Homo sapiens: one gene and its partners. The protein of the gene in region 1 interacts with the protein of each later gene in a pairwise test. Each region holds a gene or a part of one and is shown in the gene's direction. Other genes may lie near its edges.

Evidence for each region.
Region 2: the proteins of FAM107A (region 1) and TRIM37 interact in binary tests that used the Homo sapiens proteins (3 or more experiments, as listed by UniProt).
Region 3: the proteins of FAM107A (region 1) and ESRRG interact in binary tests that used the Homo sapiens proteins (3 or more experiments, as listed by UniProt).
Region 4: the proteins of FAM107A (region 1) and CCDC57 interact in binary tests that used the Homo sapiens proteins (3 or more experiments, as listed by UniProt).

Annotation. Positions count from the first base shown.
Region 1 is NC_000003.12:58,574,378-58,582,000, reverse strand, and holds the start of FAM107A (actin-associated protein FAM107A), read left to right. Parts: upstream 1-4,609; 5' UTR 4,610-4,692; intron 4,693-7,186; exon of another isoform or gene 7,187-7,623. UniProt on the Homo sapiens protein: Stress-inducible actin-binding protein that plays a role in synaptic and cognitive functions by modulating actin filamentous (F-actin) dynamics. Mediates polymerization of globular actin to F-actin. Also binds to, stabilizes and bundles F-actin.
Region 2 is NC_000017.11:59,096,868-59,103,892, reverse strand, and holds part of TRIM37 (E3 ubiquitin-protein ligase TRIM37), read left to right. Parts: intron 1-7,025. UniProt on the Homo sapiens protein: E3 ubiquitin-protein ligase required to prevent centriole reduplication. Probably acts by ubiquitinating positive regulators of centriole reduplication.
Region 3 is NC_000001.11:216,517,406-216,524,430, reverse strand, and holds part of ESRRG (estrogen-related receptor gamma), read left to right. Parts: intron 1-5,009; coding exon 5,010-5,279; intron 5,280-7,025. UniProt on the Homo sapiens protein: Orphan receptor that acts as a transcription activator in the absence of bound ligand. Binds specifically to an estrogen response element and activates reporter genes controlled by estrogen response elements.
Region 4 is NC_000017.11:82,195,838-82,202,862, reverse strand, and holds part of CCDC57 (coiled-coil domain-containing protein 57), read left to right. Parts: intron 1-910; coding exon of another isoform or gene 911-918; coding exon 919-1,325; intron 1,326-4,438; exon of another isoform or gene 4,439-4,440; coding exon 4,441-4,549; intron 4,550-5,766; exon of another isoform or gene 5,767-7,025. UniProt on the Homo sapiens protein: Pleiotropic regulator of centriole duplication, mitosis, and ciliogenesis. Critical interface between centrosome and microtubule-mediated cellular processes. Centriole duplication protein required for recruitment of CEP63, CEP152, and PLK4 to the centrosome.

The DNA of each region.
Region 1 (7,623 bases):
CACACATGCTCCCTCTCACATCCTCTCACCATCCATAGATTCACTCACTGTGCTTCTTGTCTGATTACAAGGGAATTAAAATGTACTGGGGATGGGGGTACCCCAGGGTCCTTCTGCAGCTAAGAGACCAAATTAACCATGTCTAATTGCAGCTGGGTGGAGAGCCAGCTTTCAGAAACAAGACTCTAAGTTCTTCCCCACCCCCTCTCACTTTCCCATTTTCACGCTTGAAATCCCTCAACTGGGTAAATTCTTCCCGGTTCAAACTTGTTGTAAAGGCGACTCTCATTCCTTTTATAATCTCTCCACAGATCCCATGACAGGTTCTTTCTGCCAGCACAGCTTCTTCTCCCCCAACCCCCGAGTCCTTTCTGCAGAGCATGTTTGAGAGGCGGGGGGCACGGTTTAATCCTAGGGCTGTTTTGTGGGTGGCTGCTCAGAAACCCCATTGAGGCCTTGAAAAGGGGCCTTGGAGATTTAGACTGAATACAGGGCTGAGGAGGAAGTTTTAAGTTGCCATGGAAACTTCTTGTTTGATGTTCGTGGGCCCAGATAAGCTGTTCTAGGCGCCCATGGGCTTGGAGAAAGGGGGCAAAAATGAAACAAAAGCTGTTTGGGGAGGTTATTTTCTGCACACTGCAGCCCAGCCCACTATAGATGCAGGAAAATTCTCCACCTCCCTGTCAGGACTGCCTCCCCTGGTCTTCCCTGTCCCCCTTCCTTTGGGTTCCTCTGGTTCCCAAGAAATCAGAGTTAAAAGGGGATGGGAGGGAAGACAGGAGGGGTGTGCCCAGCCCCTGGGCTTCCCCCTTTGATGCCCCAGCTCACCAGGGGGCCGAGCAAGTATGCAGATCCCCAGGCCCCTGGCTTCCCAGAGTCCTTCCTTTTGGAAGAATAGGAAGACCTCCAGGGAAAGCCACACAGAAGGAGGCAGGAGACAGCGACTGTGGCTTGAATTATGCAATTACCTGGAGTAAACGCCTCAAAGGCTTGTTTGTTCAGAGGGCCTCTGTTTTCCCATATTCTGATGACATAACTGAGCCAGATGTGATTCCTAACTAACTACAGTTGTTTGGGAAATGTTGCTCTTTCTCACATTTTTAATTCTTAGAGTCTTTTTCTGATAACAAAAGTAATATATGCTAGGGCCTTTTTTTTTCTTTTAACACCGCAAACATCACAGAAATGCAGTGACAAAGGAGAAGGGCCTGTAATTTTACGCTGTAGAACAATGGTCCTCAAACTCTTTAATATAAATGAGCCCCCAGAGAGGTATGTTTAAAATCCAGATTCCATGGTGGCTTCATTCCTGTGATCCTAGCACTTTGGGAGGCTGAAGCAGGAGGAACACTTGAGGCCAAGAGTTCAAGACCAGCCTGGGCAACACAGTGAGATCTCATTTCTAAAAAAAATAAAAAATTAGCTGGGTGTGGTGGCATGTGTCTGTAGTCTCAGCTACTTGGGAGACTGAGGTGGGAGGCTCGCTTGATCCCAGGAGGTCAAGGCTGCAGTGAGCCATTATGGCACCACTGCATTCAGCCTAGGTAACAGAGTAATGCTCTGTCTCAAAAAAAAAAAAAAAAAAAAAATCCAGATTCCTAGGTTCCTCCCTAGGAAAAAAAAAAAGCAAGAGCATTTTTAGCACTCATTTCAAATGACATCTAGTAATAGTATTTGAGATACACTGATCTAGAGTTGACCTCTGCTAACAGATTAGTGTATTTGCCTCCACACTAGTTCTTTATACATATACCAACTTTTTTATCTTGAAAAAAAAAAGAGATCCTACTACATATGATTTTTCATTGAATATGTAGAAGACATCTTTTTCAGGTCAATACATAGACATGTTTATTGGCTGCATCTCGTCTTGGGGTGTAGCATAGTCTCTTGCTGATGGAGTGTGGCCTGGGAAAGGGTGGTGGTTGGCCGCTGATCTCACGTACAGTTGCACCTGCACATGGACACACAGCAAGATGGTGCTGTAACAAGCTCAGCGCTGTCAAGGTTTTCGGTGTCTTCAGGTTAACAATAGTTATTGAGCCCCTCAGTACTGGGACAGGAAGATAGGTAGGTACCTGCCCTGGGGCTAGCAGTCTGATGGGTTTGTATACAAGTTGGACTGTGAGAAGAGTTTTTGTGGGAGAAGCACAGTGACTCCCAACTGCCCACGGAAAATGACGCCCAACATCCGAGGACTACTGCCCAGTTCTCCTTGGCTGTCAGGTGCGTGTTCCTCTGAAGTGTACCAGGTGATGGGCTTCTGTCTTCTCCGGGGATGAGCAGGAGCTGTCAGAAGTTCCCCCGCTCCAGGATCCTTCTTACTCTCCAACTGTTAGAAGGCACTGGGATTGGTTCATCTGAGCCACCAAAGACCCTAGGAAATATTCAAAATACTTCTTTGCAGAGCAGGAGGATGTGTGCAAGGAACCAGGGTCAGCAAAGAGTGGTTTGACAAGAATCTAGCTGTCCTCTTCTACCAGGAGAGTTTGGGGAAGTTAAGGCAGAGCAGGGTGGGAGGCTGAGGGGGCTACCATTCATAGTGCCTCAAGAAATGCAGAATTGGGGAAGAAGAAAAAAAGGGACCACACATTGTTTCCAGAAAATTGTTTTATACCCAAGAATTTAGGACCCTCTTAGTTTAAGTGGCTCGAGAATGGTCAGCGTGGCCAAGACTCCCTGGACATGCCTGCCCTGTCCCTCCCACTCCACCCCTGTCTCCCACCTCCCTCACTCCCAAGATGGCACCCAGCCTGCCTTTACATCACACCAGGATCCACCCAGTCTGGGCCTTTCCACTGGCTCTTCCCACCCTACGAAGACTCTCCCATGTGTACAGACTTCACACAACTGACTCCTTGTGATTCTGCTACCCTAAAACACCACCCGCTCTCACCTCACCCAGCCTTGCGTTCATCACGGCATTCCTCACTGCCTGACGTCATCCTGAATGTCCCCTTCTTTACTGTGTGTCCCCCTTGAAGGTAGGTTCCCTGACAGCAGGGATATTACCTGTGTCATTCACATGGTACCCCCAGCACTTAGAACAGTGCCAGGAACACAGTAGGAATTAAATAAATGTTTGTTAAATGAACAAATAATATAGGCCAAAGAAGACACAAGGTTGCCTTGTTAAAGCCTCCATTCACCTGTGATGCATGTCCTAGGCCTCATCACCTTCTAGCCAACCAAGACTCCATGAGAAAGTAAAGTTGGGGTGGAGGCCTGGTCTAACTGGTAGACCCCAGCTTCCTCACTGGGGAACTAGGATGACACTAAACGATAGAAAACACTTCCAGCTTTTCAAGTGAAAGCTGATTCTGAAATTAGGAGAATGCCTCCATTATCTATAAGCATCCAGGCTGGCCTTAAGGATCTACATACATTTTTTACTTTTCTTGGGTTTTTTTGTTTGTTTGTTTTTTGGGTTTTTTTGAGACAGTCTTGCTCTGTCACCCAGGCTGGAGTGCAGTGGCCCAATCTTGGCTCACTGCAAACTCTGCCTCCCAAGTTCAAGCAATTCTCCTGCCTCAGCCTCCCAGGTAGCTGGGATTACAGGTGTGTGCCACCACCCCTGGCTAATTTTTGTATTTTTAGTAGAGACAGGGTTTTACCATGTTGGCCAGGCTGTTCTCAAACTTCTGACCTCAAATGATCTGCCTACCTCAGCCTCCCAAAGTGCTGGGATTACAGGCATGAGCTACCATGCCTGGCCTACTTTTATATTTTACATTCACATGTTCATTCATTGAGCCACTACTTATGGAACACATATTCTGCCAGGCAAAATGCACCATGCTGGGCTCTGGCCTCAGATCACGTAGAGTCCAGGTCTCTCTTGGAGAAAAGTCCTATATGCTGAGCTTTGACTATGTGCTTCACTAATGTCATCTCATCCATGTCATCTCCCAACCACCCTGGTATGCTCCACATTTGACAAACACAGAAACCAAGACACAGAGACACTGAGTGGCTGCTGAAGGGGCTGGTGCTGGAGCCAGGGCCAACACATGAGCCTGCTGAGACCCAGACACGGTGCATCCCCTCTCCCACGCTCTTCCGTTGGCTCCTCTGTGAAGTTCCAATGACATTCAAGGTATCAGGAAAACGCTGTGTACGGAGTTTCTGACCCATTCGTGGATAATTAAGAACTGACCCAATGCTGAGCAGTTTCCCCTCCCTTTACACCCCACCCTTTTCCCCCCAGAGCCATTTTCTCCTGAAGAATCCACACCACTGCCTCAGGAAGCTTGGCTTCCCCTCCCATGGGGAAGTGCTGGAATCCACTCTTGCCTGACCCTCCCATAAGAAACAAGGGAAATTCCTTTACGTGAGCCGCCTTGCTCAGAACAAAGCTTGGCGTGTTTCTTATTCCTCATCAATCTGACAAAATGGGTATTTATTTGTGCCTCTCAAGCGTGTGGCTTGGACATGATGTTCCGCATCGTGGAAGTGGCCGTGCACCAAGTGGAATATCTGTTACTATAGTAACAGTTCCTTTTTATTGATACCAGAATAAACAGGAATGCAAAGGCTGTCTCACTTGTTGGCACATTTCAGCAGCCTCCGTTCCCAGGGGTTTAAGAACCGCCCTCTAGAGGCAGCCCTCCTTGCTAGTCTGGGACTTCCCGGTGGAGTGAGGAACCCAGCAACACGCTCCTGACTTCCCTTCCCAAGGACTCGACCTGAGAAGTAAGACCATCTCTGTTCTGTTTCATCTGCTGTTGAGAGCGGTGCCGTTCGGGAGGAGGTGGAAGGGAAGGAGGGCAGACCCGGTACACTGAAGTGGGCTGTCAGTGGACCTGAGTGCTTTGAGTTTAGGTACCCGGGCTATGTCCCAGCATCCATAAAATGATACGGGAGATGCCTCCAGGCACCCTGGGTTTCGGAAAAGGGTAGGAGACAAAGAAGCGAGCCCCCTGGCATAGCCCTGCATTCTTGTTGATCTTTTTCTGCTGCATCCTCAGGTGAATCTGAATTAATGCATGATATAGCCTCACCTAAGTCAATTATCACACAGTATGGGGGTTTAATTCTCAGCACAACAGACAGAACACAGATTTCAGCTTCAGAGTTTGGCTCAGATTCAAGCTCTTTCCTTCACCGGCTGTGTGATTTGGGGAAATCAGATGACTTCCCTGAACTTCAGTTTCCTTGACTGTAAAAAGAGGATAATAACAGTACCCACCTCTTCAGTCTGTCGTAAGAATTTCATATTTCATGAGATATGGCTGCTAGGTGCTTAGCACAGTGCATGGCACATAGTGCACGCAGGTTAACGTGTGAAGGGCCTGCCTTTCTGGTGAATTTGGCTTTAGGACTTTGCAATACAAGGCAAGTCTGAGATTGGGCCAGAAATCAAGAGCTGTAGGATTGGGTGTGTCACTTTTTGAAACTGCTACCAAACCCAAGTAGCTTTGAGCTTCAAGGCAGCCCCCACGCCTGCATCTCTGGGTGGCTTAGATCCTGAGTGGCCCTCTTAGTTCTGTTGGTGGTGAGTACCTGCTGGAATTTTCCCTGCAGAGGCATCTGCCAGGTAAAGTGGCTGACATCATGCCACTAATGAGCCAGCAGGGATTCCAGGTCTGCTGATGCTTGTTCCAGATCAACTGCACAATGCTGTCCACTAACCTTGCTAAGTATCCTCCATGTCTAGCCCTGGACTCTGCTATTTAATTGGTTCAAAATCCTAAATGTCCACCCAACATTCTCCTTCCGAGGTAGGAAGTTGCAACGGACCTGAGGCAAAATGTTCAGGAAGTCAGCCTTGAGTCATTGCATCCAAATGGACAAGCAGCTCTGCTGGGGGCTTCCGAGCATCGACCAGAAGCTGCTGGGAGATCTGGAGGTGGCTCCGAGATACACTGTTCTTTGGCTGCTGGCCAGTGAAATACAAATAGGCACTTTCCCCATGGAGAGGAAAAAAGCCAGAAGGGTCAGGAAATCCAGTGACCGTGCTTGTCACTTTTACTGAATGCCTGTTTTTCCTTTGCCAGTCGTTATTTTGAAAGCCTCTCTTCTCCTCTGCCCTGGCATCCCATTAAATGCTGAACCAAGAGGGTTCTGAATGTGTTCGGAACCCAGCAGCTTGAACAGTAATGAGGAAGTGGGGGCACAGGAGGGAAGGCCACCAGCTGGTCCTCTCCTAAACAGAGACCAGCCTGAGGCCAGACAGGCCCGTGGACTCTAGCTTAAGCCCAAAGCTGCTAGGGCCAGGCTGGGGCTCCCCAGTGAGAGTTTGCATTTCACGTAGGCTAGGAGTCCTCAAGTTAGCAGGCCTCCATGTTCTTATCTATAAAATGGGCTCACACAGCCTCTTCATTGGGGTTTCTTGACTATCTAGAGAGAGAAAAGGGACATAACCCTGCTTTGTCAACTAAAAGACATTTTGCACCTTGAAGACAGTGGAGAGGTAGAAAGAGCATTGAATTTGGCGTCCAAGGTCCTGGCTTTGCTGCTTACTCTCTGTGTATCGAGACAAGTAGCTTGGCCTCTCTGAGCCTTAGTTTTCTCATCTATAAAACAGGGTACCACTGGCTGCCTCCAAGGGTGATTTAGAGATCCAGATCAAATTCTAGTGGTGACCACAGGGTTTCTTCAGGACAGAAGTACCATAGTTTGTCTTCGGTGAGCATCACTCTGCCAGGCGCTGGGCTAAGCACATCATGCCATTGTATCACTTCACCCTCCAAACTGCTCCATGAATAGGCTGTTATCCTTGCTGTATAGAGGCTCAGAGAGGTTAAGCTACTTGCCCAAGGTAACACAGCTGGGAAGGATTGCCACCATGAATCAAACCCACTCTGTCTCCACTAAAACATCTGCTTTAACCATTGCTTTACTGGCTTATGTGTCATTTGTTACAACTGATGCCATCGAAGACAGAAACATGACTACCAGAACAGTGGAGAGGCAAGTGGAAGGGACACTGAGGCCTTAGACAGCCTGGGGTCCCATGGCTATTGTCAAGACGAACTGGGCCCCGAGACTCCATCAGTGCAGCTCTCCTTCTGTCTCTCCTTACTCTCTCCTGTGGCTGCAGGCACCAGTGTTTGGTTTCAAATCTGCCACCCTGCATTAGCCATGCATGCCCCAGTGGCCCGGTGCACTCTCCGTGGGAGCAGCAGTGATCTCTGCTGAGCCTTGCCTGGTGTGGGGCCAACATCCTGTGGAGCCTGTGGCAAGGAGCTCTGGGACCTCTTGGGTCACCAACAGAACCAGGGAGGAACCAAGCAAGGGGTTCCAAATCTTTCCTCAGACCCCTTATTATCCCCACCCCAGGAAAAACAACATCAGTCCCATAAACTGCATATTGAGAATTATTTGCCATCCTATAGTCATGCAAGACACTCAATAGCTGTCGCCTACTGGTGGCCTCCACCCCATGCCCAGCTCTTTAGCTCATCCAATCTTCACAGCATCACAATTCTACAGAGGAGCATCCCAGAGGTTAGAGACCATCCCAAGATCACACAGCTGCTAAGAACTGTGACCTTAATCAGATTTGCTCACAATAACCAGGCCAACTACAGTCAGCTGAGATCCTTCAGGACCGAAGCAAATAAGTTTGTGTTTTGGGTTTTTAACTCCATGGTTTGCAAAGTTGGCTGACTCTAGGAATCA
Region 2 (7,025 bases), on another chromosome or scaffold:
AGGTGGATCACGAGGTCAAGAGATCGAGACCATCCTGGCCAACATGGTGAAACCCTGTCTCTACTAAAAATACAAAAATTAGCTGGGCATGGTGGCATGTACCTGTGTCCCAGCTACTTGGGAGGCTGAGGCAGGAGAATTGTTTGAACCCGGGAGGGCAGAGGTTGCAGTGAGCCGAGAGAGCGCCACTGCACTCCAGCCTGGCGACAGAGTGAGACTCCGTCTCAAAAAAAAAAAAAAAACTTGAATGTTGGCCTGAGCGCGGTGGCCCAGGCCTGTAATCCCAGCACTTTGGGAGGCCGAGGCGGGTGGATCATGGTGTCAGGAGTTCGAGAACAGCCTGACCAACATGGTGAAACCCCATCTCTACTAAAAATACAAAAATTAGCTGGGCATGGTGGTGTGTGCCTGTAATCCCAGCTACTCAGGAGGCTGAGGCAGGAGAATCGCTTGAACCCAGGAGGCGGAGGTTGCAGTGAGCCGAGATCATGCCAGTGCACTCCAGCCTGGGTGACAGAGCGAGACTCTGTCTCAAAAAAACAAAAAACAAAATAACAAAATGAGGAAGTCCAAGATTTTGGTTGTGTATGCGAGAGTCCAATAGCACATCTACAGAGCATAGTTGAAAACTGCCTTGTTCACATTCCCCTTCAATTATTTATTTTCCTGAGAAAATCAAAGAGGTCACATGCTCTTCACCTCAAACTTTCTGTTTCAGCTGGGCGCAGTAGGTAGCTCACGCCTGTAATCCCGGCATTTTGGGAGGCTGAGGTGTGTGGATCACCTGAGGTCAGGAGTTCGAGACCATCCTGACCAATATGGTGAAACCCTGTCTCTGCTAAAAATACAAAAATTAGCCAGGCATGGTGGCATGCTCCTGTAGTCCCAGCTACTCGAGAGGCTGAGACAGGAGAATCACTTGAACCCGGGAGGCAGAGGTTGCAGTGAGCAGAGATGGTGCCACTGCACTCCAGCCTGGCGACAGAGCGAGACTTCGTCTCAAAAAAAAAAAAAATTTCTGTTTCCTTATTCTTGCCTAAGGAAGATACATATGCCTTTGTCAAGAGTATTATCCGTAACACTTAAATAATTTTTTTCTAGTCACACAGCTCACAATTGATGGTACTGGATTTGAACCCATTAAGTTCAAGAACTCTATAGCCTGTTCTTTGTCACTGTACCATGCGCAGAAGACCCAGTTAAATATGATGTTAGTTCTCATACTTCTAAAACTAAGAGATTCACTCTTTCTTGGCCTTCTTTCTTCAGCTGTAGAATTCAGATATGATTTGCTTTACAGGGTGGTTATGGCATTAAATGAGATAACCTAAGGAGTAATTCAGAAATTATGAAATACTATATCTACTTGTTTGTAAGGTGTTATTTTATTGTTAAAATAGCAACTAATACACATTAACACTTACCCATGTTTTAATAAACAGTGAAACTGATGCTAGATAAATTAAGTAATTGGACTCCGTTATAGTTAATTAAGTGGTAGAATCTGGATCTGGGCGCATTTCTTTTGATGAAGGTCCCATGTGCTTATGGTCTCTGGTTGTTACCTTATGCCTCATTGATTCTGTATTTTTTCATTGTTACATCTTCTTCCTCCTGCCCCTTAAATGCATTTATTTCTTAATTTCCTAAGATCTTGTTGCTGTCGTTCTCTACTCTGAGGTTTCTGGGAGTATTCACCTACTTTGGGAAATTTGATTTACTTTAGCAGCTTTAGCTATCATCTCTGTGTGTATGGCTCCTAAATCTATTCCTTCAGCACTGACTTTTGGATGTCTTGTCCTTCTAGCATCTTGAACTTTGTTCAAGATCAGATTATTCATATTATTTTCTCAAACCGATTCTAAGTTCATTCTTTTTGTTCTGTTCTGCTAGTCACTCAAACTGGAAACTTTATACCAATGATTTTTTTATTTTTTATTTTTTATTTTTTTTTGAGATGGATTCTTGCTCTGTTGCCCAGGCTAAAGTGCAGTGGCGTGATCTTGGGTCACTACGACCTCCGCCTCCCAGGTTCAAGAGATTTTCCTGCCTCAGCCTCTCAAGTTGCTGGGAGTATCAGCGCACTCCATGATGCCCGGCTATTTTTGTATATATATATGTATATATGTGTGTGTATATATGTATATATATAAACATGTATATGTATATATGTGTGTGTGTGTGTGTGTGTGTGTGTATATATATATATATATATTTTTTTTTTTTTTTTTTTTTTTGTAGAGATGGGGTTTCACTATGTTGCCCAGGCTGGTCTCAAACTCCTGACCTCAACTGATCTTCCCTCCTTGGCCTCCCAAAGTGCTGGGATTACAGGCATGAGCCGCTGCCTCTGGCCTATACCAATGATTTTTAAGTGCAATTAGTTATTATCTCCCTGTTTCACTTATATTTGTCTTACCCTTCTGTTTTTATCATTACCATGCTAATAGAGAAGTATGAACATTGGTTACCTCATGCTTAGATTATTTAATTACTTTCTGTCTGATCTCTCAGGTTTGAGTCTTTTCTTATCTCCAGTCCATTTTCTGTCCTGCTACTATATTAATATTTTTCACTGATATCTCTTTCTTTTCCCCAGAAGCCTCAGAAATGTATTATGTAAAGGATAAAATCCAAGAATGTTAGCCTTGTGTTCAGACCATCCAGATCTGGTTCTGACCTTTCTTTCTAGGGCTGTCTTGGTTCCTGAATGCACTAATCATTTGTTCATTCATTCAGCAAATATTGATTGCTTGCCTACTTGTTTTCAAGCCAGTCATTTTTTATTAGGTATAACTGACATGCAGTAAACTACACATATTTAAAGTGTACAGTTTTTTTGTTTGTTTTGTTCTTTTTTTTTTTTTTTTGAGACGGCGTTTTGCTCTTGTTGCCCAGCCTGGAGTGCAATGACGCGATCTCCGCTCACTGCAACCTCCATCTCCTGGGTTCGAGTGATTCTCCTGCCTCAGCCTCCCAAGTAGCTGGGATTATAGGCATGCATCACCACGCTTGACTAATTTTGTATTTTTAGTAGAAACAGGGTTTCACCATGTTGGTCAGGTTGGTCTCAAACTCCTGACCTCAGGTGATCCACCCACCTCAGCCTCCCAAAGTGCTAGGATTACAGATGTGAGTCACTGAGCCTGGCCAAGTGTACAGTTTTGACATATATGTATTCTTGTGAGACAATCATTGCATCCAAGTTAGTGAATATATCTGTCATCCCCAAAAGTTTCCTTGTGCCTCTTGGTAATTCCTCCCTCTACTTGCCTTGTCCCCAGGCAACCATTGATCTGCTTTCTGTCACGATAGATAAGTTTGCTTCAGAGATAAGGGGGATGGAAAAAGAGAAAAAAGATAAGTTTGCATGTTTTGGAATTTTATACAAATGAAAATCATACAATATGTACTCTTACGGATCTGGCTTTTTTTCACTCAGCAAAAATACTGTATGTATCAGTAGTATTCCTTTTTATTGCTAAGTAGTATTCCATTGTATGTATTTACCACAATTTGTTTATGCATTCACCTGTTGATGGGCATATGGCATGTTTACAGTTTTTGCTATTACAGTGAAAATTGCTGCGAACATTCGTGTACAAGAAGCTTTCTTTTCTCTTGGGTAAATAATTAGTAATGGAACGGATAGAGATTATGTGGTAGATGTGTGTTTAACATTTTGAAAATTGCCAAGCTATTTTCTAAAATACTTGTATCTGGGAGCTAAACAATGAGCATACATGGACATAAAGGGGGAAATGCTAGACACTGGGGACTTCAAAAGAGGGAGAGGAGGAGAGGGATGAAGGTTAAATTAAAAAAAGGATTGGGAGGCCGAAGTGGATGGATCACCTGAATTCGGGAGTTCGAGACCAGCTTGACCAACATGGAGAACTCTGTCTCTACCAAAAATACAAAATTAGCCAGGCCTGGTGGTACATGTCTGTAATCCCAGCTCCTTGGGAGCCTGAGGCAGGAGAATCACTTGAATCCAGAAGGCGGAGGTTGTGGTGAGCCGAGATCGCACCATTGCACTCCAGCCTGGGCAACAAGAGCGAAACTCTGTCTCAAAAAGAAAAAAAAGGAAATAGTTTTATAATTTTACATTCTCACCAGAAGTTTATGAGAGTTCCAATTCCTCCACATTAATGCTAACAGTTGGTGTGTTCGGTTTTGTGAATTTTAGCCATTCTCAGGGACGTGTAGCCATTCTTACAGGTATCTCCTTGTTTTAGTTAGCGTTTCTCTGTTGAGTAATGATGTTAGCATCTTTTCCAGGAGTTATTTACCATCCATATGTTGTCTTTGGTAAGGGGTCTGTTCAGTGCCCCCCATTTTGTGCTAAAATAAATATAACAAAATTTTCCATTTTACCCATATTTAAGGGTACAGTTCGGTGTCTTTAATTACATTCATAATGTTATACAACCATATCACTATTTCCAAAATCTTTCATCACCCCAAACAGAAAGTCTGTACCCATTAAAAAAAAAGAAAAAAGAAAATAAACATAAGTAAACATAGAAAAGGTATATTAAAAATACAGTATAAAAGATAAAAAATGGTACACCTATGTAGGGCAGCTCCATTCTAATCTTACGAGACTACTGTAGTATATGCGGTCCATCATTTACCGAAACATCTTTATGTGACACATGGCTATATACCACTTTTTGTTTATCCTTTTTCTTAAGTTTTTTTGTTTTTTGAGACAGAGCCTCGCTCTGTCGCCAGGCTGGAGTGCAATCGTGCGATCTCGGCTCACCACACCCTCCACCTCCGAGGTTCAAGCGAGTCTGCTGCCTCAGCCTCCCGAGTAGCTGGGACTACAGGTGTGCGCCAGTACACCCAGCTAATTTTTGTATTTTTAGTAGAGATGGGGTTTCACCATGTTGGCCAGGATGGTGTCGATCTCTTGACCTGGTGATCCACCCTCCTTGGCCTCCCAAAGTGCTGGGATTACAGGCGTTGAGCCACCGCGCCTAGCCTATTTATCCATTTTTATCTCTTGATGGACACTTGGGTTGTTTTCACTTTTTGGATATTGGATATTGTTAATAGTTCTGTTGTTAACAATTATCTGTTTGAGTTCCTGCTTTCATTTCTTTTGAATATATATCTAGAAGTGAAATTGCTGGGTCATATGGTATTCTGTTAATTTTTTTTTAATTGTGGTAAAATATACCTAATGTAAAATTAGCCTTTTTTTTTTTTTTTTTTTAAATGAGACAGTGTCTCACTCTGTTGCCCACGTTGGAGCACAGTGACACAATCATGGCTCACTGCAGCCTCAATCTCTTGGGCTCAAGCAGTTGGCCTGCTTCACACTCTTGAGTAGCTGGGACCACAAGTGTGTGCCATCGTGCCTGGCTAATTTTTTTATTTTTTGTAGAGACAGGGTTTTACTTTGTTGCCAAAGCTGGCCTCAAACTCCTGGGCTCAAGTGATCTGCCTGCCTTGGCCTCCCAAGTGCTAGGATTACAGATGTGAGCCACTTGGCCCAGCCAAATTTGCAATTTTAACTGTATTTTTAAGTGTACTGTTTAGCGGCATTAAGTACATTCACATTGTTGTGCAGCCATCACCACTATCCACCTTTAGTACTTTTTCATCATCCCAAACTGAAACTCTGTACTTGATAAACAATAAATTCTCATTATTCTCTTCCCCCTAGCCCCTGTTAACCACTATTCTACCTTCTGTCTTTACATTGACTATTCTAAGTACATCATATAAATGGAATCATAAAATATTTTTGTTTATTTCTACCTCTCTATTCTGTTCTATTAGTCTCTATTTCTGTTCTTATGGTAGTACCACACTGTTTTGATTACTGTAGCTTTGTAGTAAGTTTTGAAATTAGGAAGTGTGAGTCCTCCAACTTTTTCAAGATAGTTTTGACTATTTGGCATCCCTTGAGATTCCATGTGAATTTTAAATGCAGTTTTCTACCAATATAAAAAGTACCATTGGAGTTTTAGTAGGGATTACATTGATTCTGTACATGCCTTTGAGTAATATTGCTGTCTTAACAATATTAAATCTTATGATCCTTGAACATGGGTGTCTTTCCATTTATTTAGGACTTCTTTAACTTCTTTGAGCAGTGTATTGTAGTTTTGCACGTATAAGTCTTTCTTTTTGTTTTTTATTGTTTTGAGACAGGATCTCACTGTCACCCAGGCTGGAGTGCAGTGATGCGATCATGGCTCACTGCAGCCTCAACTTCCTGGGTTCAAGAGACCCTCTTGTCTTGGCCTCCCAATGCTGGGATTATAGGTGTGAGCCACCACACTCAGCCTCCATGTATGTCTTTCAAATTCTTGGTTTTTTTTTTCCCTAAGCATTTTATTCCTTTTGATGCTGTTGCAAATGTGTTATTTTCTTAATTTCGTTTTTAGATTGTTCATTGCAAGCTTATAGAAATGCCAGTGTTTTTTGTGTGTTTGTCTCCTGTAACTGTTGTGTTTATTAGCTTTAACAATATTTTGTGGACTCTTTAGGGATTTTTACAGATAAGATCATGTCATCTGCAAAAAGATAATTTCACTTCTTTTTTAATTAGGATACTTTTTATTTCTTTATCTTGCCTAAGTACTCTGGCTGGAATTTTTAGTACCTGTATTATGTCAAATAGAAATGGTAAAAGCTGGCATCCTTGTCTTTTTCCTGATCTTAAGGGGAATTTTTCCTGATCTTAAGGGGAAGAGTTTTTAGCCTTTGAATCGTTGACTATGATTTTTATGAGTTTTTATATATGGCCTTTATCAAGTTGAGGAAGTTCCCTTCTATTTCTATTGAGTATTTTTATCATGAAAGGATATTGGATTTTGTCAGATGCCTTTTCTGCATCAATTGAGATGATCATAGTGGGGGTTTTCCATGAAGTGGTTTATTACATTGAATGATTTTTGTAGTTGAATCATCTTTCTATTCTAGGAATAAATCCCACTTGGCCACAGTGTATAATTTTTTAAATAGTCTGTTGAATTAGTTTTATTGGGATTTTGTTGAGGATTTCC
Region 3 (7,025 bases), on another chromosome or scaffold:
AAGAAAAATTTTAAATAAAATGCTTCTGATAGCACCATGTAGATGTTCCAGCTTTCACTTCTGCAGTTAACCATCTGTAGCTGCTTAACTCTAGCTCCTACTGAGTTCCAGTTCATGAAAAAAAAGTGTGTGTATATATATATATAGTCTCCTGCAAGAGACTATATATATATATATATAACTTACATATATATATATATGTATATATATATATAAAGTTTCCTACAAGCCCCTGAGCTGTGTATTTTGTGAATCATAGGACAAAGTGATATGTCTGCCCCATATGTGAAAAGAACATCTGGCTTAAAAATACAAAATAAGTTTATCTCTAGCAAGGGTTATGCATCTGTGTGTCTATTGGTAGCTAAGACCAAATGTTAGTGCCACTGTTATTCTTTTCTTCTCTGGGTCCTGTAAACATTAGGTTTATTTGTACGGGAAAGAAAAGAATCTAGCTTACGTTGCATTGCTTAATCAGCTTCTCAAAATGAACTTCATTTGTGATCTCAGTGAGTCATTATGGCATAATTACAGTTCTAGCATGATATGCTAGTTGTTGAAAAATGTTGATTTTTTTTTTTTTTGTGGAACAGAAAAACTACAGTTCAAAAACTGTGATCAGGCAAGTCAATGCCATGATTAACTGATATTAACAGATGCCCTGAAGATTTAAAATGCTTGCTCTCTATTTCAAGAAAGCAGCCGAGAAGAAAATGCCTAGCAGGGGTTAAACCCAAATGCCTGCACTGCAGCCTATTTCTGTCAACACTCTGTTCAGGAAATAAACATTTATGCTTTCTGAAATGAAAGTGTATTTTTGAAGACTAGCCGTCAGATATTTTTTGCCCTTCACACTTTCAAATGCTTAGCCTTTTTTGTAAGTTGACTGCAAAGTGCATCAGTTTGCCAGGCTAAAAAAAAAAAAAAACAAAAAAAAAAACAGTGCTTGATGAGTGCCCATGGCACCACTGTCAACCTCCAAAGTTTCCAGTAGAAGAAGGCAAGACGGTTGGCACAAAACATGCTTTCTTCAAGCCTATTACCTCAGGGGTACCTGCCTCTTGAGAAGCTTTTCAATCCTTCCAAATGATGTTATTCCCAACTGTCATCTGGTTTATTTGGAGCACACTGTATTGCAGATAAACATGCTATTTAACTGCGGGTCAAGGTAGAGAGTCATTCTGCAAGCAAAATGCCTGAGATACATTAAATGGCACTGACTCTGGGACAGAGATGAAGAGAGATCCGAGTTGTCAGCGATATGCAGGGAATGGGCTATAGCTGTGGAAGAAAAAATGTGCCATGGTATCAGTGCATTTTAAAAAGCTGTAATATGGCTGAACATTTAAAACTATAACCTGTCACACACCAAAGATTAAGGTCCCAGGATGTACAAAACATGAAGTTCAAACGACACAACTGCAAAGCATATTTTATTTCACTTGGGAAAGAGGTTTCTCTCCAAAGATAGCTAAATATTACAGATGATGAAGACCTCTAACTTGTAGCCCAAGAGCTATAAACTACCATTAAATACCTGGTATAAACATAAACAAGTAATTATCATTTGGATACAAGCATGTGTAAGCCAATAGAGCAATTATGTTTTAAGAAAATTCCTTAGACTCAGCTTATTAAAACATGCATTTTCATTTAGGCCTTGGTTATTTAGAATTTTATACATTGTTCAGGTCTATTGATAAAAATGTTATTTTATCCATGCGTTTTTATGTATGTGCAACGTAGCTAGTACTCCTAAAGAAAAGGTAAAATAATTTTATGGAATTAAGATAAAATTTCTATTATGTATTTGGTCTCCTTAGTGACCAGATGAACATGACTATCTTATAACAAGGCTGTCTTAACTGCTGCTCAGGCATTTGGGCAGGAGAGCTCTTTGTACTAGCTTCCAGATTGCAGTGGTGTGGTAGGAAAGGGGTAAAATGAGAGCCAGCAATTTCTAGACCAAGAAAAGATAGAAGAAGTTCAGACTTTTATTTTATTTTGTAAGGCATAGATTGTCCTTTTTCCTTTGGATTTGCAAAAAGTATACTTCCTTTAATCAGCTGAAATATACTTGAGGATATCAATCAAGCAAATGTGTCAAACCTTTTGTGCTATATCCGTCTCCTCATGCTCCCTCACCAAAAAAAAAAAAAAAAAAAAAAAAAAAAAGGAGAGCTGTTTCTTCCCCTTTTTTCCTTCTCTTTATTTCATAGAGAAGCAAAAGGAAAAAGTTAGGTTTGCAGGAAGGATAAACACACACACATGCACACACATATACACACACACAACCATCAATATAGAAGAAACAAATTGCAGGATCAACTTTAAAAATGAAATTTTATTGTTTTTTGTTCAATTAAACCCCAAAGAAATGTGCGAAATGTTGTTATGGCTGTAACATTGTTAATTTGTAAATCACAGGGACAAAGGGGGCCCGGTGCAACTTTAAAGTTTCCGTGCACGTAAATGTCGCTAGCGTGCCTTCTCCATCATCAGCACTAAATTCACATTGATGCCTCTTTTCTTCTCCGTATTGATCCTTCCATGAGAACGTAGATTTGTATCTGTTAATTAATGTGTCCTGAAACAGCGTTTGTATTAATCAGGCAGATAAGAAAAATTGGATGCCTGCACCCCCCTGACAACCGTAAAAGTGCTGGCCCTGATAAAATCGTGGATGGACCTCAATAAAAAAGTTCCTCCTTCCACTCAATAAACTAATCATCCTGCTTTTAATTATTCGGCAGAAAGATGTGTGGAGATTGGAGAATGTGTAAATCTATTTACTAACAGCAGTGTCTGGGAGGGAGAATAGGGCTGTCACAGGAAGGTGCTGCGGGCTACACGCTCTGTCCATCTGCTGCTGCAGAGAAACTGCGACTTGGGAGCATGAAAAGGAACAAGAAAACTAAGGCAAATTGAAAAGACCCATTCATTTTTGCTCCTAACTTTCCAGATGATTTTTTTTTTTTGGTATTTTAATTTACACAAGAAATTCTTACTTAGTATGTTTTCTTGAGATTGATATTTGGATTTGCATTGCACCTTTTTTCCTTGGAGGGGAATAGAAAAAAGAGCAGTGTGGTTTTCTGTTTGTTTGTTGTGAATATAACATTGCTAAAATTAAAAGCATCTGGAGCCTAACCTATTTAGGTTAAATAATTTAGTTTTCTGTGTTGAACCGCTGTTTAAAATGTTATCAGCTATTATATCTCTAAGAGGATATTTATTAATTTAACCCCAAATGCAATGACAAAAGCAGAATAAGAAACAAGACTTACACAGCCAGTCCAAAAGAAATCCTGTCAAATAACATGTAAGCACCATGATAAACAACGAAAGAAATGCATTTTACACATATCTTAAAGATTCCCTTAAGAAAAGCTTGACTCATCTCTTCTGATGATTTTATTAAGCACTTATAATTAATGGTACCAAATGGCAAACCACTGTTTTTCACCAATAGGTCAGGAAATCCTTTCCTTTTCTTTACTGTGCTGTAGTTTCTAATATCATATGGGATACCCACAATTTGATATGATTGAAAAGGACAGCAACAGTGACCATAAGCAGCAGCCTAAAAAGGTTGGGCATCAGTGGCTACTTATGATTTGGATAATAATGTCTAGAAAGGGAGTAAAAATAGATTTCTTAAGTTGCATTATTAAAAATGGTCCTTCCTTTCTGTAGAATTACTGGTGGCAGGACCTTAAATGATGGTACCACTGTCCTCAGAAGCCATGAGGTGGATGGTTACCCTTAGAAGTCTTAGGCATACACTTGGAAATAAAAGTGAAGTTTTAAGAAACATTTCTTTTTTAGGACTTGAGAAAAGCTTCTGATCATCAGGTATCTTCACTTTAGAATACAGATCTAGTCCCTCTGATATATAAATATATATCTTCACTCCTAAGTAGGCTTAATTGTACTGCTTCCTCTTTCTCTATTGAACAACATTTTCTTTTTAATTTTTTTGCATATGTTTTCTCAAGCTCAGAGGGACTTTAAATATGCGTGTATGAATGCATCCCAGATTTGCAGAAAAGAATTGATCACATAGGTAATTCAGATAAAAAGAACATATATTAATCATACAACAACACTTACTGAATTTCAGGTTATAGCTTAATGTTTAGGTAGGTGATATTTTATATTTCCCAAATACGAAATTTAAGAGACAAGTTAATTTCTCTTGCTCAAGGTGAAAGAGCCAGTAGCTAAGTGGAGCCAGTATTTACATTCAGAATCTGACTCCTTTGCACCAAACCCTGTTACCTTTATTTATATTTAACTTTTTAAATAATTGGAGCTTAATAACAATAGTGAACGAGGCTTTTCTCTTTGGTGGGGAGGCCAGGCTGCTACATATTACACTTTCTTTTATACCTATTATCACTAATTTTAAAAGAAAGTCATGTTAAATATCAGTGGGGAGAAATAGCCAATTAAGAAGGCTCACCTATTTGTAACTCATCATCCATTGTGCTTGTAATTATTAATATTATACAGAAATGTTTCCAAGTTGTGCTGAGCTCTATGGCCTAAATTGTTTGTTTACCTTTTATTTTTAGCTGCTTCTTCTTCTCCTTCTTCTTCTTTTTTTTTTTTTTACTTTTATGTTGTTTACCAATAGTAGTTTTTAGAGATGAGATAGTTGAAAATCTGACTTCCTGTAAGATTTTCCTAAAGACTTCAACCAGAAATCAAGTATATTTAAAGATTACATGGTATTTTCTTCTCGAATGAAAGAAAGCGACATCTCTATTATATTCCCCTAAGCTGTGTCTATAAAACTTATAGCAAATACCCACAAATTGAAGAAGCTGGTTTGTGACTTTCACTTTGCTGTTCGCAAAGTGATCCAGGGAAAATTTTAAGAGCTTCTAATCAAAGCTCAGCATAATTTTGAGCACTGATGCAGAAGCCAGCTACCATATGAAACTAATGTTGCATTATGAAATTATGGCTTTAAAGTAACTTGATCTGCCCATCTTTCCATGCAGGCTTCTCCACGCTGTCCCTGGCGGACCAGATGAGCCTTCTGCAGAGTGCTTGGATGGAAATTTTGATCCTTGGTGTCGTATACCGGTCTCTTTCGTTTGAGGATGAACTTGTCTATGCAGACGATTATATAATGGACGAAGACCAGTCCAAATTAGCAGGCCTTCTTGATCTAAATAATGCTATCCTGCAGCTGGTAAAGAAATACAAGAGCATGAAGCTGGAAAAAGAAGAATTTGTCACCCTCAAAGCTATAGCTCTTGCTAATTCAGGTTGGCATACTGACATAGTCATTGTTACATTTTTTTTAATATGTCAGTTTTACCCCTCTCCTTAACTTCTTTAGGGATTTGCTAGACCTGGTTTGTAAATTTTGTATGAGTCAGCAAAATTATAATCAGTATAGCTTTCTAGTGAAAAGTTAGAAATAAGAAAAATATACTTAAAGGGAATTAATTTCATTTGACTTGCTTATTGAATGCTTTGAAACTTTTATCAACTAATGCATGTACTAATTTGGATCATGGCAAAGCAAAAGCTCTTGTAGTAATAGCATAAATGGACACTCCCAGGACAAAATTATTTCTATTGTATTTTATGCGTAAGTTAAAACAAGGGAATTGTTGATACACACAAACCATTTTTCCCTCAAAAATGCAAATTGTGCAATTGGGAAAATATATTTAGTGTTGCTTTGAGTTTTGGTTATCAAAGAACAGTTTTCTTACATTCTGGAGTTCTTTAGAAGTCAAATTCTGCCTATGCAGTAAGGGTTAAGAATTATGGGAATAACTGGTCTTTACATTCGAACTGAAACATGCTAAAATAGCAACCTCTAATAAGTAAAAATCGTTGGTGCTTTGTTGTTTTTCCCTTTGTGCCTCTCTTAATGCTTTATTATGGTCTTAAGTCTCTTTTAGCATTTGCATAAAGTTCAGGATAGATCCCTCCTTAATGACGTGCCGATCATTAGATACCTGCGTGTCAATAACGTGCTCTGATGCTATGTACCACTGACAGTCACACCGTGCCCCTCCATCTGCTTTTGTTTTGACCCTATCTTTGAACTTTATCTTGGTTGCCGGCCAGTAGTTTTCCCTTTAATTACAAGAAGGAAACTGTCAATAAAATCTGTTAAATGGGATGCAATGAGTGGCTTGAATGGGCGGACGGCTATTTGTTCAAATTCTGCAGCATTCAAGGTATTGACAGTTTGTTTTCTGGGGCCATATGTGACGATCAATCTCAGGCTGGGCTCAGCCGCGCTGAAAAATGAAAAACCAGATTGCTTTTGCTTACTTGTGGATGACGACTTTGTGATTTGGCGCGGTCCTAGTGAGATGAGACCTTCTGCCCAAATTGCCCCCATGAGAGCCAGGGACGCGTGACTGTTTTTAGAAATAATTTTTAATTGATTTTGTAATTAACAGTTCATCTACAATATTGATGCATGAATCCTTAGACTGATAGGAGGGAAATTGTTTTCAACAATGGAGTTGTACTTTCCTATTTGTCTTCATAATGCAGTTTAGCATTTCACAGTTTTAATTGTGAATATAACCCTCTTCCTCACCACACCATGCACCTCTCTTCTTCTACGCTCCTGTGAAATTATAAAATATGATTTCTTATGACAAATGACATTGTTATTATGAACCCTGAAGAATCCCCTGCCCTCCCTCTCCAGAAGATCAAAGTGAGAGATGGGGTAGAAATTTTCTGAGGATTTATTAGTTTGTATGGACTTCACATTATACCATCTCTCATAATGAGATGAAATATTTTATAACAGTGGTTTTGGGAAGAATTTTTATTTGGCAATCATGAAACGATTCTAATTTAAAACATTTACTTGGTTAATTGTTTTTAAAATATACTAAAGCCTGTGTTAAATCTTTTATGTTTCAAATTGCTTTTAAAAATTATTAACTAACCATGAATGCTGAGCAATGCTAAAACTTTATCAACAAAATTGCTAAAAATGTATAATTTTAGATATTGGATGTGTACTTTATGAC
Region 4 (7,025 bases), on another chromosome or scaffold:
TTGAAGCTATTTTATAGAACCTAGCTCTTATAGCTGGACAAACCATGTTTCCCATCTTCCCTTCCTCTACTTCCCCTGGATTTCTTTTTTTTAATTTATTTTTTTAATTTTTTGGAGAAAAGAGTCTTAGTGTCGCCCAGGCTGGAGTGCAATGGTGCGATCTCTGCTCACTGCAACCTCCACTTCCTGGGTTCAAGTGATCCTCCTGCCTCAGCCTCCCGAGTAGCTGAGATCACAGGCATGCGCCACCATGCATGGCTAATTTTTATATTTTTAGTAGAGACGGGGTTTCACCATGTTGGCCAGGCCGGTCTCAAACTCCTGACCTCAGGTGACCCACCCACTTTGGCCTCCCAAAGGGCTGGGATTACAGGAGTGAGCCACCATGCCTGGCCTTTTTTTTTTGTTTATTTTGTTTTGAGAGAGAGTCTTGCTCTGTCACCCAGGCTGGTGTGCAACCTCTACCTCCTGGGTTCAAGCGATTCTCCTGCCTCAGCCTCCCGAGTAGCTGGGACTACAGGCACGTGCCACCACAGCAGGCTAATTTTTTGTATTTTTAGTAGAGACGGGGTTTCACCATGTTAGCCAGGCTGGTCTCGATCTCCTGACCTCAAGTGATCCATCCACCTGGGCCTCCCAAAGTGCTGGGATTACAGGCGTGAGCCACTGCACCCGGCCTAATTTTTGTATTTTTAGTAGAGACAGGTTTTTGCCATGTTGGCCAGGCTGGTCTTGAACTCCTGACCTCAGGTGATCCGCCTGCCTCGGCCTCCCAAAGGGCTGGGATTACAGGTGTGAGCCACCGTGCCCGGCCGTGGTAACTGTTGATAGGGAATGTGAGGTAGGTACTGTGGTAGGAAAATTAGGGCCCCTCACGGTGCACCCTGAACCTGATTTCTCTTTACTGCAGCGGCCACCATGCTGCCACTGGGCTCAGAGCCCGCCCTGAATGAGCTGCTGCTTCGCAAGGAGGAGGAGTGGAGGGCGCTGCAGGCACACCGCACCCAGCTGCAGGAGGCGGCTCTGCAGGACACACGGAGCCAGCTGGAGGAGGCGCAGGGGAAACTGCGGTGCCTGCAGGAGGACTTTGTCTACAACCTTCAGGTGCTGGAGGAGCGGGACCTCGAGCTGGAGCGCTATGACGCCGCCTTCGCCCAGGCCAGGGAGTGGGAAGAGGCCAGGCGGGCAGAGGTGAGCGAGCTCAAGATAGAGGCAGCTAAGCTGAGGCAGGCGCTAGCCAGAGAGGCCAGGAAGGTGGAGGAGCTGCAGCAGCAGCAGCAGCTGGCATTCCAGGAGCATCGCCTGGAGCTGGAGCGCGTCCACAGGTGAGCCACCGACCGACGCGCCCTCCTGTGCAGTGCCTGGCAGAGGCCCCCACATGCCTCCTGCTCCGCTGTGCTGCCCGAGCACTGCCCACTCTCACTGCCCCTCCTCCCGCTGCTGATTCCAGGCCACGGGAGCTGGTCTGTCTGAGTGGCCGAGTGCCTCGTGGCCTCTGAACATGTGTTTGTTGAGTTAATGTGGATGGATCCAGGAATGCCCTGACTGTCTTTTTCTGGGTTCTGATATAACTCTGAAATTAATGGAGATTGGTTTTAATATTTGGAATTTATTTCATTAATTATAAATCTATATTAATACATATTTGAATTTATAATGATTTTAATGGAAGTCTGTAGTAATTTCAAAACTAAATGAGCTGACTTAAGGCAAGTCGACATAAAAACCTAAAGCCTTTGTTGTGGGGCCTGTGGTGGGGCCCCTGGAACTCAACCACATGCCTGGTATCCCCTCAGCTCCACTCACCCAGCCATGCTGTGGAGAGTTTGAGGAGACAGGAAGGAAGGAGGACAGGCTTCTCTGATAAGCTCTTCCATCCCCCACTTCAGAAGTACCGCAGGTTCATCATAGCACATTAACAGAGGCCCTTCCTGTGTGATGCGTGTGTACAGACGTTAGGAGAGCCGGCTGCATGCTCTGTTTACACTTAACAGGATCCTGGGTACTTTTTTTATGTTTTATGTATTCTTCTAACATAAGCAGCATTTTTTTTCTTTTCTTTTTTTTTGAGACAGAGTTTTTAGCTGTGTTGTCCAGGCTGGATCGCAGTAGCGTGATCTCGGCTCGCTGCAACCTCCATCTCCCGGGTTCAAGTGATTCTCCTGCCTCAGCCTCCCACGTAGCTGGGACTATAGGTGCCCACCACCACGCCCGGCTAATTTTTTTTTCTTTTGTATTTTTAGTAGAGACGGGGTTTTGCCATGTTGCCCAGGCTGGTCTTGAACTCCTGACCTCAGGTGATCCACTGGCCTTGGCTTCCTGAAGTGCTGGGATTATAGACGTGAGCTACCGCGCCTGGCCATAAGCAGCTTTTTAAAGCACTTTTTAAAGCCGCAGGAGTAAACTATTCTTATCATAGAAAGTCATTTCTCAGAGAAGATACTGTGGTGGAATGGCGAAGTGAAAGCCGCCACGGGCAATCTGTTGTGTCATCTCCAGGCCCCATATAGAGCCACCTGCGCACACTGCTCCGAAATGTGCGTCCAGCACTTCCTGATCGATTTGTGGTGTCTGTCCTTCGTGTCAGTGCGCTGGGTTCTGCCACGCCCTTTTAACTGACCAGCTACCCTCTGTTGTGTGTGTTGGGCCGGTTTGCTCAGAAGGGTCTCAGATGGGTGTGAACGGGCCAACAGGACCACACCAGGTGCTCCGGTCCAGCAGAGAGACCTTCTGCGGCAGGTCAGGTGCAAGGAGAGGAGACCCACATTGGTGGGTGTGGTGCCCCTCTAGCTCAGAAGCCCCAACCAGTATTGTGCAGCCAGTATCTCCTGTAGCAGCCCGCAGGGATCGCGTCTGCAGTCCCTGCAGCAGATGTACCCTGAGCGCCACCGTCTTCTGGGAAGCCCACAGTGTTGATGGTCCCTCTCTCTATCGCATCTCGCGGCGTGGATAAAAAGTGCCAGTCAGCAGTCATTTGACCCACGCAGTGCTGCTTGCTAATGTGGTAGACACCCGTGTGCCACCTGCCCAGTGTCCAGGGAAAGAGAGAGTTGAGCTGGAGGTCAGCTTCTCCCTGAGTGGAGGGAGGGTGTCTGGAAGCTCCCGTCCCCAGCATGAAGGCTGGTGCTCAGCCTGCACCTCGTCTGGGCGCCGAGTCCGTGCAGGTGCGTGCAGTGCTTGGACAGCTGAGGCCCACTTGCCCGCCGTGCGGGTGCTGACTTTCTCATAGCTGCTTTCCAGAGTGTTTACAGCATCCTTTTAAAAGTGCTTTACGTTATGTTGTGAAGTGTCTCTTCAAGTCTTTTGCTCATTCTTCTCTCCAAACCTGGGATGTTTTCAGCCATGTTCAGGTACTTTTTCAGTCTCACACTCTTTTTTTTTTTTTGAGACAGAGTCTTGCTCTGTCGCCCAGGCTGGAGTGCAGTGGCGCGATCTCGGATCACTGCAACCTCTGCCTCCGGGGTTCAAGGGGTTCTCCTGCCTCAGCCTCCCGAGGAGCTGTCACTACAGGTGTGTGCCACCATGCCCGGCTAATTTTTGTATTTTTAGTGGAGATGGGGTTTCACCATGTTGGCCAGGCTGGTCTTGGACTCCTGACCCCGGGTGATCCACCTGCCTTGGCCTCCCAAAGCGCTGGAATTACAGGCGTGAGCCACCACACCCAGCCTGCTATAGCTTTTTCTTTGCTGAGATTTGTTTTTCCATTTGCTTTACTAGATTACTTGAAGCGCTTTTATAATGACTGCTGTAGCTTCCTTGTTGAAGAATTCCAGCGTCTGTGTCATCTTGGTGTTGGCATCTACCTATTATCTTTTCTCCTTCAAGCTCAGATCTTTCTTTTTTTTCCTTTTTCTTTTTTTTTTTTTTTTTGAGATGGAGTCTCGCTCTGTCGCCCAGGCTGGAGTGCAGTGGCACGATCTCAGCTCACTGCAAGCTCCACCTCCCGGGTTCACGCCATTCTCCTGCCTCAGCCTCCCGAGTAGCTGGGACTACAGGCGCCCGCCACCACGCCCGGCTAATTTTTTTTGTATTTTTTTGTAGAGACGGGGTTTCACCGTGTTAGCCAGGATGCTCTCGATCTCCTGACCTTGTGATCCGCCCACCTCGGCCTCCCAAAGTGCTGGGATTACAGGCGTGAGCCACTGGGCCTGGTCAGATCTTTCCGGTTTTTGGTTGTCAGGTTTTTTTTTTAATTGTATCCTGGACATTTTGGGTTTTATGTTGTGAGACTCTGGGCCCTATTTAATTTCCTCTTTTATAGATGGGTGTAGCATGCTGGTCCAGGTGGGGCTGGAAGTTCTGCTACCCCGTGGGTCCTGCTGAAGCCACCCCTTCATAAAAGCAAAGCACCAACTTTCACATGTCAAGTGCACCTTGAAAATGTATTACCTTTGCTGAATATTTGGTATGGCTTTTCTTAATGCTGTTTTATTACCATAGTGACAAGAATGGTGAGATTGACCACCACCGGGAACAGTATGAAAATCTAAAATGGACACTGGAGAGAAAACTTGAGGAGCTCGACGGTGAGCTTGCTCTGCAGAGACAGGTAGAGCCTCTGGGTCGGCCCCTTCCTGGGTGCTTTCCCTGCCTGCCCACTGTGAAACTGAAATCATATAGGGCTGAGGAAAAGACAACCATTTGGTTCATTGCCTGCATTCTCCTTGGGAGTAAAATGGGGTCTTTGGGGCAGATGCCACTCTGGGATGGTCTGCAGGGAAACAGGATGGGATGTCTACATGCAGCCACCTCCACAGTGTTTCCTTGTTTTCTTTCCTCATGGATTAGTCAGGGTTCTCCAGGGAAACAGGCAATAGGAGACGTGTAGATATATAGGAGATAAATTGTAGGAATTCACTCGTGCAGTTACGGAGGCCATGAAGTCCCACAGTTTGTCATCTGCAAGCTGGAAAACCTGGGAAGCTGGTGGTGTAATTCAGCCCAGGGGCAAAGGCCTGAGCACCAGGGAGCCACTGATGTGAGTCCTGGTCCAGCTCTGAAGGCCCAAGATGCAGGAGCCCAATGTCCAAGGGCAGGAGAAGGCGAGTGTCTCAGCTCAAGCAGAGAGAGCGAGTTCACCCTTCCTTGCATTTCGTTCTATTCAGGCCCTCAGTGGATTGAATGACGCCCATCCACAGGAGGAGGGCTAGTCTCTTCTGGAAACACCCTTGCAGACACTCCCAGAAATAATTTTTTACCAGCTATCCGGGCAGCCCGTAGCCCAGTCATTTGACACATGGAATTAACCAGCACACCTCAGAAATGATGAAACTTTTAAATTTATTTTTAGAAAGGTATAATTTTAAAAACATGAATTATTTACTATGGAAAAGAATTTGGAATTCAATTATGATAAGTTTAAAAACAGATGCTTCAACTGAAAAGTGGCAGTCACCGAATTTCTCCTCAATGTTCTGGAAACTCAGCCTACACCTCCAAGAGACTCAGCTGTGCTGGGGTTTTGTTGAAAGACATCCTATAGATTTATATCTAGAGACCACAGTCAGAGATGCTGCCACTGTGTGCATATGTGACAAGGGGCTGCATCTCTGCAGGTTTACGTGTGATGAGGGGCTGTGCCTGTGCAGGTGCAGGTGTCATGAGGGGCTGCGTCTCTGCAGGTGCAGGTGTCACGAGGGGCTGCGTCTCTGCAGGTGTCATGAGGGGCTGCGTCTCTGCAGGAGTCACGAGGGGCTGCGTCTGCAGGAGTCACGAGGGGCTGTGTCTCTGCAGGTGCAGGAGTCATGAGGGGCTGTGTGTCTGCAGGTGCAGGAGTCACGAGGGGCTGCGTCTCTGCAGGAGTCACGAGGGGCTGCATCTCTGCAGGAGTCATGAGGGGCTGCGTCTGCAGGAGTCACGAGGGGCTGAGTCTCTGCAGGAGTCACGAGGGGCTGCGTCTCTGCAGGTGCAGGAGTCACGAGGGGCTGCGTCTCTGCAGGTGCAGGAGTCACGAGGGGCTGCGTCTCTGCAGGTGCAGGAGTCATGAGGGGCTGCGTCTCTGCAGGAGTCACGAGGGGCTGCGTCTCTGCAGGTGCAGGAGTCATGAGGGGCTGCGTCTCTGCAGGTGTCCTGAGGGGCTTCTTCTGTGAAGGTGCAGGTGTGATGAGGGGCTGCGTCTCTGCAGGTGCAGGTGTAATAAATGGCTCTGTCTATGCAGGTAGGTGTAAGTGTTACTAGAAGCTGTGTCTATGGGGGTGTCATAAGGGGCTGCGTCTGTGCAGGTGCAGCAGTGATGAAGGGCTTTGTGCAGGTGTGACAGGGTCCCCTCTCTGGTCCTGTCGGATGTTGGGAGCTTGGTCATAGTAGGATAGGCCAGTGTGTCACTAATTTGCCACAGTCAGGTCAGCAGAGAAGGAGGCCACGCTCACGTCATGATGGGCCCTCCTGTGGACTGTCCAGTTGTCCCCGGAAGTGCTGAGCTCACTCCCGTTGTTCACAGGTCCCTGAGGCTGCTTCTGAAATGGCCTGCAGAGGACTTTCTCTTGGAATTCTCAGAAACCAAAGAGCTTTGTCGATTATGGATGAGTTTGAGAACAGCCGGAGTTCTTTAGGCATGAAGCCAGCGTCTAAAATCCGTGGTCAGTAAGAGACCAGTGGTGACTTTTCTAAGTAGTGAGGCTTCCTCAAGTGGCTCCAAAGTCACTTCCAAAGAAGGAGTTTGAGGAGGATCCAGCTGTGGGTGGTCCTGCCCAGCAGGTGGGGGGCTCTTGGCAGCATCTGGGGACAGTGGCGATTTGAGGCTGGTTGTAGTTGGCAGGGCGCAGCCATTCTTGTCAGAGTTTCTGGCTGGGCCGTGACTATGGCTGACTTCCCAGGCTGTCCACGCCGAATTTCTCAGACTCAGCAGGGCTCGTTCAGGGAGAGCCATCTCAGACGTTGGGAACATGGATTTTTTATCATGTTCAGATAGTATCCTTGTCTCTGGAAAGAAGGAAACGTGACGTTTTAACGTGGCAGCTTTGGTTACTAGGGGAAACTTGGGCAGCACACATCCGGTGTGGTTCTGGGTAGTCCGATCCTGTGTG